Regions from separate parts of the Homo sapiens genome. Here all the other regions are linked to region 3. The links come from fine-mapping of genetic effects on gene expression. A gene starts in region 3. Each other region holds a variant in brackets. All regions are shown on one strand. Distances are from middle to middle.

Region 1 (4,187 bases), 220 kb before region 3:
GGCCTTGCCCCTCTCCGGGCCTCAGTGCCCCATCTTCAAAACGGGGGGTGAGGCCAAGGAGCCTGTGGCCCCATGGAGGAGGCTCCCACAGACCTGGGGTTCATGAGGCTGTGAGGAGGGTAGGCAGAGAGGAGCGCACCCCGCCGCCTCCCGACCCTCCCACCCCAGAGACACGTGGCAGCAGGTGGGGTGGGGCCAGGTTTATTATTGGGTCCATGGTGGGTGAATGGGAGTTGGGGCACAGCCATCTCAGCCCAACCCGGAGCTGAGGCCAGCAGGCTGGCTCTGGCTTCTGACCTGCTGGGCAGGCCGGAGCTCCAGGGGAGGCTAGAGGCTCTGCTCTGGAAGAGAGATCAGAGAGGCAAGGAGAGACACCGAGAGGGAGAAACCGAGTCGGGGGAGGCAGGGTCAGCGCCAGCAGGTGGGGCTGCCCACGCCCCAGAGCACTGGCCCGTCCCACAGTGCAGGGAACCAGGGAACCAGGTCCCAAGGAACGAGGGCTAGATACCCCCGACTCTCCCGTGGCTACATGAGGGGTTCCCAGAGCCCAGGTGGAACCAGGTACACAGTGGGATGTTAGAATTAGTCTCAGTCGCTAGGGCAGGGTGGCACTGATGAGCCTGGCTGCTGAGAGGGGAAGCAGGGCTGAGAAGGGGAGCTGGAGGCAGCAGGGCCTAGAAGCACCCAGTGTCCAGGGCCCAGGCCCTCCGCACCCCTGGGCAGAGCAGCAATGGCCCTGAGGAGCCCCGGGTATCCCAGGAGAGGGTGCGTTGGGGCCCAGGCAGCCTCCCTCACCTGAGCAGGTGCGCTTGTTACGGTGCAGGACGTAGCCTGCGCGGCAGGAGCAGTAGAAACCGCCCAGGTGGTTGTGGCAGTGGTGGTCGCAGGTGGGCGCCTCTCCCGGGGCCACCTGGCACTCGTCAATGTCTGGGGGAGAGGCAGGGCCAGGCAGGCCGTCAGGAGGGAAAGAGGCGGGATCCAGCCTGGACTCCTCCCAGGAGATCCATGACCTCAGAGTGGACCTCAGAGGAGGCCTCGTCCTGTCTAGGGTGCGGGACTGGTGCCGGGCCAATCACCTTACAGGCCTAGGGTCGCTGCAAGCTCCCAGCAGCGCTGGGAGAAAGATGCAAACATCACCTCTGTTAAACCAGTGGGAGTTTCAGTGTCCGGCCCGAGGTCACCCAGCTAATGAGGGGAGTCAATCAAACCCAGGGGGCGGGGCTACAGCGCTGAACCCTTGCAGCAGCTTCCTAAGGAGCAGAGAAATTGAGCCACTTGCCAGAGGTCACACAGTTGGTCTCTGCAGGGACTGGGATCTGAAATCAAACATCCTGGCAGCGCTCCCGCTGGCAGGGCCCCACTTTGTCAGCTGTAAATGGGGCCCTCGGCCCCTGCGTCGTTTTTGTTTTTTGTTTTTTGAGACGGAGTCTAGCTCTGTCGCCCAGGCTGGAGTGTAGTGGTGCAATCTCTGTTCACTGCAGCCTCCACCTCGCAGGTTCAAGCAATTCTCCTGCCTCAGCCTCCCTAGTAGCTGGGATTCCAGGTGCGCACCACCACGCCCAGCTAATTTTTGTAGTTTTAGTGGAGATAGAGTTTCACCGTGTTGCCCTGGCTGGCCTTGAACTCCTGACCTCAAATGATCAGCCAGCCTCGGCCTCCCAAAGTGCTGGAATTACAGGCGTGAGCTGCTGCGCCCGGCCAGTCCCTGCGTCACTTGAGGCGATGCTGTCCTCAGATCCCTGGCTCAGAGTTGGCACTCAGCCCATGTGAATGGAGGTCACGGCTGTTTTGGTCTTTGCATTGTGGATGATGTCAGGCCAGAGGCCTCTCCCCTGCCCTGGGAAAGGTGGGGAAACTGAAGGCAGGGCTGCCTGGCCTAAGACAGAGTTACCCCCACAGCCAGCTGCGCAGACTGAGATGTTGCAGGACCCCTCTTGGCTCACCCTC[G/A]GCTGCATAGAAGGCCTCGAACCCCGTGAACGGCTTCTCGTTGGAGTAGTCGGAGCGGAAGGTAATGTCCAGGCTGGAGCCCAGCGAGTAGAAAGTGTCCTTGCCAGGGGCCCGCTCCGTGTCTGTGCTCTCCTGCCCGCACAGCGTGGCCAGCACCTTGGCCCCCGAGCTCAGCTGTGGGGTCAGGTGTCACAGGGAGTGAAGGCAAGACCCAGGCCTGATCTCCCTCCTGGCCAAGCCTGGCCCCTGCTCCCAGGTGTCCCTGAACCCTGGCTACTCCTTGGGGACCCCCCGACCCTGAGAAACCCCAGCCCTCCCGTCCTGACGGCACCTTGACGAAGTCGTACTCGCAGAGGTGGGAGAGCTCCAGGTCGAAGTGGGTGAAGTAGAGGCGCAGGCGGTAGCCGGGGGGTGCAGTCAGGGTCCAGCGCCGCTCCTGGTCATTGGCATACTCCCCTGGAAAGCCGGGGGATGCCAGGCGCCCGAACACAGGTTCAGGCCACTTCGGGCCCAAGGGGGTGGCCACCGAGCCACACAGAAGGCCCAGGAGGGTCAGCAGCCTATGGGCAGGGCAGGGGCGGTGAGGGCCCAGGCCTGTGCTCCCACCCCACACCCTGCAGGGAGGCTGTGGGCGCCCACCTACCTCATGGTGTGCCCGTCCAGCTGGCCTGGCCTGGTCTGCAGCCCTACGCTGGTCTCACCTTTGATCTGTTTGTCCAGTGACCTGCCCCTGCCCCCAGCCTCCCTGACTCTGGGATTCTGGGAATCGACTCCATGACTCCAGCCTGCTCAGAGTTCCAGGCAGGCAGGACAGGCTGCTCTGGGAGCCAGGAGTCGGACCTAGGTAACAACAGCCTGGAAACAAATCCTGGCTCTGCCCCTCACCCCTCCCTTTTTTTTGGATCTTGTTCTGTTGCCCCGGCTTCAGTGCAGTGCTGCAATCATAGCTCACTGCAGCCTCTACTTCCTGTGTTCAAGCAATCCTCCCACCTCAGCCTCCCAAGTAGCTGGGATTACAGGCGAGCACCACCACACCTGGCTAATTTTTTATTTTTGGTAGGGATGGGGTTTCTCCATGTTGGTCAGGCTGGTCTTGAACTCCTGCCCTCAGGTGATCCACCTGCCTTAGCCTCCCAAAGTGCTGGGATTACAGGTGTGAGCCACCGTGCCCAGCCTCAGGCTGGCTAATTTCTTAAACCCTGTCAGAAGGACCTGGTGCCACCAATTCCCGATTCCCTTGCAGGCTTAGAAGTCGCTTTTGGCTGGGCTCGGTGGCTTATACCTGTAATCCCAGCACTTTGGGAGGCCAAGGTGGGTGGATCACGAGGTTGGGAGTTTGAGACCAGCCTGACCAACATGGTGAAATCCCATCTCTACTAAAAATACAAAAATCATCCAGGTGTGGCAGCGCGCACTTATAATCCCAGCTACTCGGGAGGCTGAGGCAGGAGAATTGCTTGAGCCTGGGAGGCGGAGGTTGCAGTGATCCGAGATCGCACCACTGCACTCCAGCCTGGACGACAGAGTGAGACTCCACCTCAAAAAAAAAAAAAAAAAAAAAGAAGTTGCTTTCCAGGCAGTTATTTCACACCTGTTTATCTGTTCTTCCAGCTTCCAGAACTTTGAGGCTGCTGCTTCCTCTTCCACACTCTGTCCTCATGGATTCATGTCTTGTCTTTTTTTTTTTTTTATCCCCTTTATATTTGTTTTTGTTTTTTGTAGAGATGGGGGTCTCCCTGTGTTGCCCAGGCTGGTCTTGAACTCCTGAGCCAAAGCGATGCACCTGCCTCAGCCTCGCAAAGTGCTGGGATTACAGGTGTGAGCCACCAAACCTCTGCCTCCGGGGTTCGAGCAATTCTCCTGCCTCAGCCTCCCGAGTAGCTGGGATTACAGGCATGCGCCACCACGTCCGGCTAGTTTTGTATTTTTAGTAGAGACGGAGTTTCTCCATGTTGGTCAGGCTGGTCTCGAACTCCCAACCACAGGTGATCCACCCGCCTCAGCCTCCCAAAGTGCTGGGATTACAGGCGTGAGCCACCATGCCTGGCCTATTTTCTTTTAGAGACCGGGACTCTGGCTGGGTGTAGTGACTCCTGCCCATAATCCCAGGAGGCTGGGAGGCTGAGGCAGGTGGGTCGCCTGAGACCGGGAGTTCAAGACCAGCTTGGGCAACATAGCAAGACCTTGTCTCTAAAAAAAAAAAAAATTTTTTTAAATTAGCCAGGCATGGTGGCATGCAC
Region 2 (4,225 bases), 61 kb before region 3:
ACAGCACAGGAAAATGGCAGATGGGGCACAAACAAGAGAAGGCTGTGTGGATGCTTCTCTCCTCCCACCAGCTGGTTCCCTGTCAGCCTCCATCTGGACAATGGGGAAAAGTCTCACCTTGTCACTGTGTTCCATGAATTCAGCCAAGTTTAAGAGGGTCTGTGTGACTTCAGCGATGTCTTGTGAGGTGAGGGCCAACTCGATGCTTCTGATGAGCTCATCCTGTTGATCTTCATTCAGTTCAGACCAGCAGGACACAAATGCAGCATTGAAGAGATCCCTGAAGGCAGAGAAGGTGGAAAATGGAGAGACCTCCCGTGCCTCTGCCTGCTGCCTCAAAGTCACACCTATCAATTCGCTTTTGGCATCACTGATTTTGGTTATACAAACCAGTGCTATACAGACCAGTGCTGTCCAAGAGAATTTTCCTGTCCAATATGGTAGCCAGTGATCACTAAAGCACTTGAACTGTGGCAAGTGTGGCCAAGGAACTGAATTTTACATTTTATTTATTTTTAATTAACCACATATGGCTAGTGTCTACTGAATTTTACACTGCAGGTACAGACATTGTGATATTCAGGGACTTGGGGGGCGAGTGGCAGGGCGGGGAGAAGAGCAGAGCAAAGTGACTTTTCTCCAAAGGAATATTTCTTGGCAGTTTTTGCATTATTTCTCTTCACTGGAGGAAATGGGAAATGAACAGTATAGGGACTTCTAACATAGAAGTTGGCATTAACAAATGCAGAAAATAATAATCATTAAATGATTCTTGGGATGTTTCTGGGACAATGTCTAAATTCTTAAGGTCAGAAATGTCAAAGGCAGCATCTGCAATTGCTTTCAAAATATAACCAGAATCCTTAGTTGGATGGTCATAAAAAATGACAACAGGACTAGAAGCATTAGCAAATAGGATCCAAATCCTTAAGTTCTAAAAGATTTTCTAAGCCAACAGTTGGGGCCTCACAAAGACATGGAACCAGAGGTTCCATTTCAAAGATTACTATGACCACTTTACATTACCACAGTACCACATGATGGACACATTTGCCATCCCTTACATCTAACATTAATTCTGTCCTCCCCACTGTTCTGGTGACTGTGCGGGGAAGGAAATGGGAAAAAACAGGATATACCTACAATGGATAGATTTAGCATTTGATGCCTCTATACCTATTTTCTGTTACATATTAACAGGTTAAGTTAGACCAATGTGTATAATTTTGGAATTTGATAGAAAAAACAAAATTTGAAATCCAAAGGATCAAATGAAGACCAAAAAAAGTCTGTTATAAATTTAAAAATAAGGCCAGGCGTGGTGGCTCACGCCTGTAATCCCAGTACTTTGGGGGGCTGAGGCGGGCGGATCACAAGGTCAGGAGATCGAGACCATCCTGGCTAACATGGTGAAACCCCGTCTCTACTAAAAATACAAAAAATTAGCCGGGCGCGGTGGTGGTGGCCTGTAGTCCCAGCTTCTCAGGAGGCTGAGGCAGGAGAATGGCTTGAACCTGGGAGGCAGAGTTTGCAGTGAGCCAAGATCACACCACTGCACTCCAGCCTGGGCAACAGAGCGAGACTCTGTTTCAAAAAAAAAAAAAAAATTAAAAGTAAGTTTTCGGAGCCAGGTAATTACAGTCGCTGGTCATCCTGGTGACTTGGGAGGCTGAGGCAGGAGGATCTCTTGAGATTAGCAGTTCAAGACCAGCCAGGGCAATAACCAAGACCTTCATCTCTAAAATCATAAAAAAAGTTTTCCTGATCTAGGTCAGAGGCCACATTGGATCTTGAATGAACGTATTTGGGACTAAGGGGATAAAAACATTGTGTATATCACAAGCCTCTCATGGATAACACTGTGCTCAGAGGTGACTGGAGAGAAAAGAGGAATAATAAATACATCAGCTGAGTACATGATATCTCCACACTACGGAAACAGGGAAGTCCTAGAAACTATTTTAAAGCATTAAAAAATACTTGAAAGAAATTAGAGGATGCAAATCATGGCATCAAACCAACAGTCTCAGGGGCCATCACTACTGCTAAATATATATCATAACAGCAAACCAGCTGCTGACAAAAATGAAGTGAAATGCCTTGCTTTCTGCTTCTTGCCAATGCGAAGGGCTGCTTATTAATTAAATCACCATTTTATGCCTCATTATAAATAATTAATATCCAATGCAGAAAAATTTAAGAAATAAAGAAGAGAATAAAAAAGAAAATAATCACTCCTTAAGCCTTCCCTAAAGATAACCATTGCTATATTACTTTCTAATCTTTATCCTATTCACATTTATTTTAATTTTCAATTTTGTATTCCATTTTATTTACTTACATTATATTATAAATCTTTCACATGCATTAGAAGTTTTATAAACCAAAAAAAAATTTTTTTGAGATGCAGTCTTGCTCTGCCATCTAGGCTGGAATGCAGGGGCACGATTGTGGCTCTCTGCAGCCTCTAAACTCCTGGACTCAAGTAATCCCCCCGCCTTAGCCTCCTGAGTAGCTAGGATTACAGCTTCATGCCACC[A/G]CGCTTGGCTAATTTTTCATTTTTGTAGAGATAGAGTCTCGCTAGGTTGCCCAGGCTGGTCTTGAACTCTTGGCCTCAAGTGATCCTCCTGTCTCAGCCTCCTAGAGTGCTGAGATTATAGGCAGGAGCCACAATGCCCAGCCTGTAAACCAAATTTTAAATGGCTGTTTAAGATTTACTATTTAGGCCGGGCACAGTGGCTCATGCCTGTAATCCCAGCACTCTGGGAGGCCGAGGTGGGCAGATTGCGAGGTCAGGAGATCGAGACCATCCTGGCTAACATGGTGAAATCCCATCTCTACTAAAAGTACAAAAAATTGGCCAGGTGTGCACCTGTAGTCCCAGCTCATTGGGAGGCTGAGGCAGGAGAATGGCTTGAACCTGGGAAGTAGAGGTTGCGGTGAGCCAAGATCGCGCCACTGCACTCCAGCCTGGGAAACAGAGCAAAACTCCGTCTCAAAAAAAAAAAAAAAAAAAAAGATTTACTATTTAAAACAATATTTTTTTTGGCGGGGTTGAGGGATGAGAAATTACCTGATAGGTACGATGTACACTATTATTCAGGTGATGGTTCTACGAAAAGCCCAGACTTCACCACTATGCAACATATCCATGTAACAAACCTGCACCTGTACTCCAAAATCTATAAAAATTTTTAAAAATTAAAAAAAAAATGGTGATGACTCATGCCTATAAATCACGGCACTTTTGGAGGCTGAGGCAGGATGACTGCTTGAGTCCAGGAGTTTGAGATCAGCCTGGGCAACATAGTGAGACCTCGTCTCTACAAAAAATAAAATTAGCTGGGCCTGGTGCGTGTCTGCAGTCCCAGCTACTCAGGAGGCTGACGTGGGAGGATCACTTGAGCCCAGGAGGTTGAGGCTGCAGTGAGCCGAGATCGTCCCACTGCACTCCAGCCCGGGCAGCAGAGACCCTGTTTCCAAAACAAAAACAAAAACAAAAAACCAGGCGGGGCGTGGTGGCTCACGCCTGTAATCCCAGCACTCTGGGAGGCCAAGGCAGGTGGATCATTTGAGGTCAGGAGTTCAAGACCAGCCTGGCCAACATGGTGAAACCCCACGTCTACTAAAATTACAAAAAATAGCCGGGCGTGGTGGCGTGTGCCTGTACTCCCAGCTACTCGGGAGGCTGAGGCAGGAGAATCGCTTGAACCCAGGAGACGGAGGTTGCAGTGAGCCACAATTGCGCCACTGCACTCCAGCCTGGGTGACAGAGCAAGACTCCATCTCAAAAACAAAAACAAAAATGAAAACAAAAAAACCAACCAAACAACAACAACAAAAAAAGATGTCTAAAGTGATGAATATCCCAATTATCCTGATTTGTTTTATTACACATTATATGAATGTATCGAAATATCACATGTACTTTGAAAATATATGTACATCTATTATGTATCAATAAAAAAAATTTTGGCCAAGTGGCTCATGTCTGTAATCCCAGCACTTTGAAAGGCCAAGGTGAGCAGATCACTTGAGGCCAGGAGTTGAAGACCAGCCTGGCCAACATGGCGAAACCCCGTCTTTACTAAAAATACAAAATTAGCTGGGTGTGGTGGTACACACCTGTAATCCCAGCTACACGGGAGGCTGAGGCAGGAGAATCTCTTGAACCAGGAGGCAGGGTTGCAGTGAGCCACAACTGTGCCACTGCAGTCCAGCCTGA
Region 3 (4,225 bases):
GAGTAGCTGGGACTACAGATGTGCAGCACCACGCCTGGCTAATTTTTGTGTGTTTTTAGTAGAGATGGGGTTTTATTATGTTGGCCAGGCTGGTCTCAAATTCCTGACCTCAGGTGATCTGCCCGCCTTGGCCTCCCAAAGTGCTGGGATTACAGGTGTGAGCCACCATGCCCGGCCTGGACTAGTCACATTTCAAGTGCTCCACAGCCACATGTGGCTGGTGGTTCTTGTACTGAACAACGCAGTTCTACAGGGGACTAGCTCTTCAAATGTAAGCTAAAAGAAAGTAATTAGTTCCTGGCCGGGTTTGGGAGGCCGAGGCGGGCGGATCACGAGGTCAGGAAATCGAGACCATCCTGGCCAACACGGTGAAATCCCGCCTCTACTAAAAATACAAAAAAAAAAAAAAATTAGCCGTATGGTGGCGGGCGCCTGTAGTCCCAGCTACTCGGGAGGCTGAGGCAGGAGAATGGCGGGAACCCGGGAGGCGGAGCTTGCAGTGAGCAGAGATCGAGCCACTGCACTCCAGCCTGGGCGACAGAGCGAAACTCCGTCTCAAAACAAAACAAAAAACACCAATTAGTTCCTGAGCTCATTCCCTCATTCCTCAATTATGCCCACACTGCCATGGGTGTAACATACACCTATCCCAAGTATGTTCAGCTTATGCTACAAAACCAATTTCTCAAAATTCTTATTTTTGAAAGAATTTGTAAGGCACAGAGGAAAAACCTGGGAATAATTGGTTTTGTAAAGCTTTCAAATACTCCACTGCCAAGAAGAAGACTGCAGAAAGAAATGTCATCCTTTAGGGGAGAAGAAACTTAAGAATCCCTGCTAAGAAAACTACTCCAGTTTGTGTGTATGTGTGTGCGTCCGAAAGGGGGGAAGGTGGCTGGCAAGGGATTTCTATTCTCAGGAAAGAACCAGTGTATCTTTATATGATCTGAGGCCCACAGGCCATCTGCTCCAGACTGAATTCAATTAAACTTAGGATATCTGAAGTCAAATATCCTAATGGTGTTGATAGGGCTTAAGGAAGTTAAGATTGGATGGGGGAAACAGGGATGGGGCTGGGGGAGAGGGAGAGAAGATGTACCCCAACGATGTAACCAAGCTCAGTTTCGGGGACTGGATCTCTGAGAGGTGTCCACAGTGGAGGACAAGGGGCTGACACGGACGCTAGTGTTCCCTGGGGCAGAGATACACAATTTTTATACGTGGCTCAAAAGAAAGGGTGGCTGTGACAGGCAAAAGACCCAAAGGGCAATACCAGAGCTGATGGGCCGGCCTTCGGGCGGACGTACCGCGGGCCGAAGGGTCCAGGGGTCTCTTGGGGGTCCCGGGGAGGTGGGCGTTGCCTCGAGGGGTGGGAGTCAAGGCCTCAGACGGTGCCCAGGTCGTGGGGCCGGCAATGTGGGGACCCCACGTCCCAGACGGGCGGCTTCCCCTGGCCCCCCCACGGGCAGGCTGGCCGTGGGTCTGGACATTACGCCGCCCTAGAGGGGTCGTGCCAGGCCCTAGACTCACCGCGCGGCTTCGGCCAAGGCCTCAGCTGCCGCCGCCAGCACCGGTACCGCCGCTTCAGGCCCCCTGCCCCACCGCCCGCCTTCCCCGCTGTCCTCTAAGCCGGGAGCGAGGGAAGGAGGGTTCCCAGCCCTGAGGACCAATCGACAGGTATAGGGAGAAGATGGACTGAAAAACAGGCCAATAGTAATGAAGAAGAGAAGCTTCAGGACCCGGCTTCTCCAGGGGGCGGGGACTGTTCAAATAGACAAACCACGCGGCCAGTGGCAGGTGAAAACAGGCTTGGGTCCACTCGGGAGAACCAATCGGTCGTGAGTTCACCTCAGTCACTTCCACTCACACATCCGGTACGGCGCTGCTAGGATTCCCTTCTGCATCCGGGCTGTGAACTCAAGGAGTCCGGTGTCTGGGTATCTCCGGATCGCAGCGAGAGCGGCTAGCAGAGGTTCGCGACCCCTCCCGGTGTAATTCTGAGAGGAGAATGTGAGCGATGCCGGTGCCCAGGAATTACTGCATCAAAAGACGTTTCGGGCTAGCGCTCTTTATGGATCCTGTGATATCTCTTTTGTTACAATTAATAAGCATTTGAAAATGTTTTTAATTAGATTCTCTAACTTTCCCAAAATTATCCAACTCAGGATCACTCCAGAGAAACCATAGCCAAGTTTTAACCAAAAGAGCTAGTCATAAATAAAAATTTTCAAAGCAACATTATTTTTTAAAAATCCTTTCAAAAAATCAATAGCTGGCCCGGCGCGGTGGCTCACGCCCATAATTCCAGCACTTTGGGAGACCGAGGCAGGCGGATCACCGTAGGTCAGGAGTCGAGACCAGCCTGGTCAACATGGTGAAATTCCCCCACCCGCACCCCCCGTCTCTACTGAAAATACAAAAATTAGCTGGGCATGGTGGCTCACGCCTGTAATCCCAGATACTCGGGAGGCTGAGGCACGAGTATCGCCTGAACCCGGGAGGTGAAGGTTGCATGCACCGAGATCGTGCCACTGCACTCTAGCCTGGGCAACAGAGCAAGCTCCGTCTCAATACATACATACACACACACACACACACACACACACACACACACACACACAACCAAAGAAAATAAATAACTGCTGGTCACGGTGGCCCACGCACTTTGGGAGGCCAAAGCAGGAGGATCGCTTGAGGCCAGGAGTTCCAGACCAGCCTGGGCAACATAGCGAGACGATGTCTCTACAGATTAAAAAAAAAAAAATCAACAGCAAAAGTGGATTTGACTACATTTTTTTTTAATCACAGTGCTATTTGTCATAGTAAACACTGAAAATTCCTAAATATTTCAAAGTAGGAGTCCAATAAAATATGATGCATTCGTTTGGGCGCGGTGGCTCACACCTGTAATCCCAGCACTTTGGGAGGCCGAGGCGGGCGGATCATGAGGTCAGGAGTTTGAGACCAGCTTGACCAACATAGTGAAACCCCGTCTTTACTAAAAATACAAAAAAAAAAAAAAAAAGGTAGGCGTGGTGGCAGGTGCCTGTAATGCCAGCTACTCAGGAGGCTGAGATAGGAAAATCCCTTGAAGCCAGCAGGCGGAGGTTGCAGTGAGCCGAGATCGCGCCACTGCGCTCCAGCTGGGGTGACAGTGCGAGACTCCATCTCAAAAAAAAAAAAAAAAAAAAAAAAAGATGCATTCATAATAAGAAAAATACATAGCCATTAATAATTATAATTTAGAGCCTAGCATGGTGGCTCATCCCTGGAATCCCAGCACTTTGGGAGGCCGAGGCAGGATTGCTTGAGGCCAGGAGTTCCAGACCAGCCTGAGCAACATAGTGAGACCCTTGTCTCTACAAAAGAAATTTAAAAATTAGCTGTGTGTGGTAGCACATGCCTGTAGTCCCAGCTACTTGGAAGGCTGAGGCACGAGAATCACTTGAGTCTATGACTTCAAGGTTGCAGTCATCTGTGATCTCCACTGCACTGCAGCCTGGGCAGCAGAGAAAGATCCTGTCTCAAATAATAATAATAACAATAAATAGTGGTAATTAGATGAATATTTGCTAAGAAGGAAAAGGTTCACAACTAGTTTAAAAATTACAAGTTGTGCAACAATGTAAGTATAATACAACCATTTACAAAAATATTTATGCATTTCTTATATGTCTCTGTTTACATGGGGGAAATGTGCACAACTAAGATGTAATTTGGGAAAGACACACTTTTTTTCTTTATACATTATCAATTACTTATGTAATAAAAACAAGTGAAGGTAGAAGAAATGAGTTTTCAGAAGGTCTAAACTGCCAAATTAAAGATAGTTGGGCTGGGTGCGGTGGCTCACACCTGTAATCCCAGCACTTTGGGAGGCCAAAGCAGGAAGATTGCATGAGCCCAGGCATTTGAGACCAGCCTGGGCAACATAGTGAGACTCCATCTCAAATAAATAAATAAATAAACAAATAAAGATGTCAATATTCCGTGGCTAACAAAATGCTTTGTTTGGCAGGGTTTTTGTTGTTGTTGTTGTTATTGTTAATATCTATGATATTGGCCAGGCACAGTGACCCAACACTTTGGGAGGCTGAGGCAGGTGGATTGTTTGAGCCCACCTGGGCAACATGGTGAAACCTCATCTCTACAAAAAATGCAAAAAATTAGTTGGTGTGGTGGCATGCACCTGTGGTCCCAGCTACTTAAGAGGTTGAGGTGGGAG

Alleles and levels. Positions count from the first base shown, and alleles are read on the strand shown. Sizes are in standard deviations (SD) of each study's normalised expression. Not every link is listed here.
With allele G in place of A in region 2, the expression in activated naive CD4 T cells of the gene that starts at base 1,637 in region 3 is higher (large effect, 1.0 SD a copy in Schmiedel 2018).

What was found. PIP is the estimated chance that this variant, and not a neighbour inherited with it, causes the effect. A credible set is the group of variants that fine-mapping cannot tell apart.
Region 1: its variant is the best candidate, but not a certain one, in a credible set for the expression of MTOR in whole blood (TOPMed, PIP 0.50).
Region 2: its variant is the best candidate, but not a certain one, in a credible set for the expression of MTOR in activated naive CD4 T cells (Schmiedel 2018, PIP 0.62).

Annotation. Positions count from the first base shown.
Region 1 is chr1:11,044,613-11,048,799 of GRCh38, forward strand. It overlaps MASP2 (MBL associated serine protease 2), which reads right to left and starts at 2,627. Exons shown (of 11, transcript NM_006610.4): 1 at 2,591-2,627; 2 at 2,279-2,507; 3 at 1,944-2,121; 4 at 796-927. The coding sequence starts at 2,595. RefSeq lists an enhancer at 1,132-1,964. The variant G/A (reference allele first, on the strand shown) is at 1,948.
Region 2 is chr1:11,199,424-11,203,648 of GRCh38, forward strand. MTOR (mechanistic target of rapamycin kinase) reads right to left here. Exons shown (of 58, transcript NM_004958.4): 27 at 118-280. Among named protein-coding and RNA genes, the nearest start is that of ANGPTL7, 12 kb to the left of the region's middle. The variant A/G (reference allele first, on the strand shown) is at 2,540.
Region 3 is chr1:11,260,915-11,265,139 of GRCh38, forward strand. MTOR (mechanistic target of rapamycin kinase) reads right to left here and starts at 1,637. Exons shown (of 58, transcript NM_004958.4): 1 at 1,531-1,637. RefSeq lists a silencer at 1,355-1,404 and an enhancer at 1,825-1,984.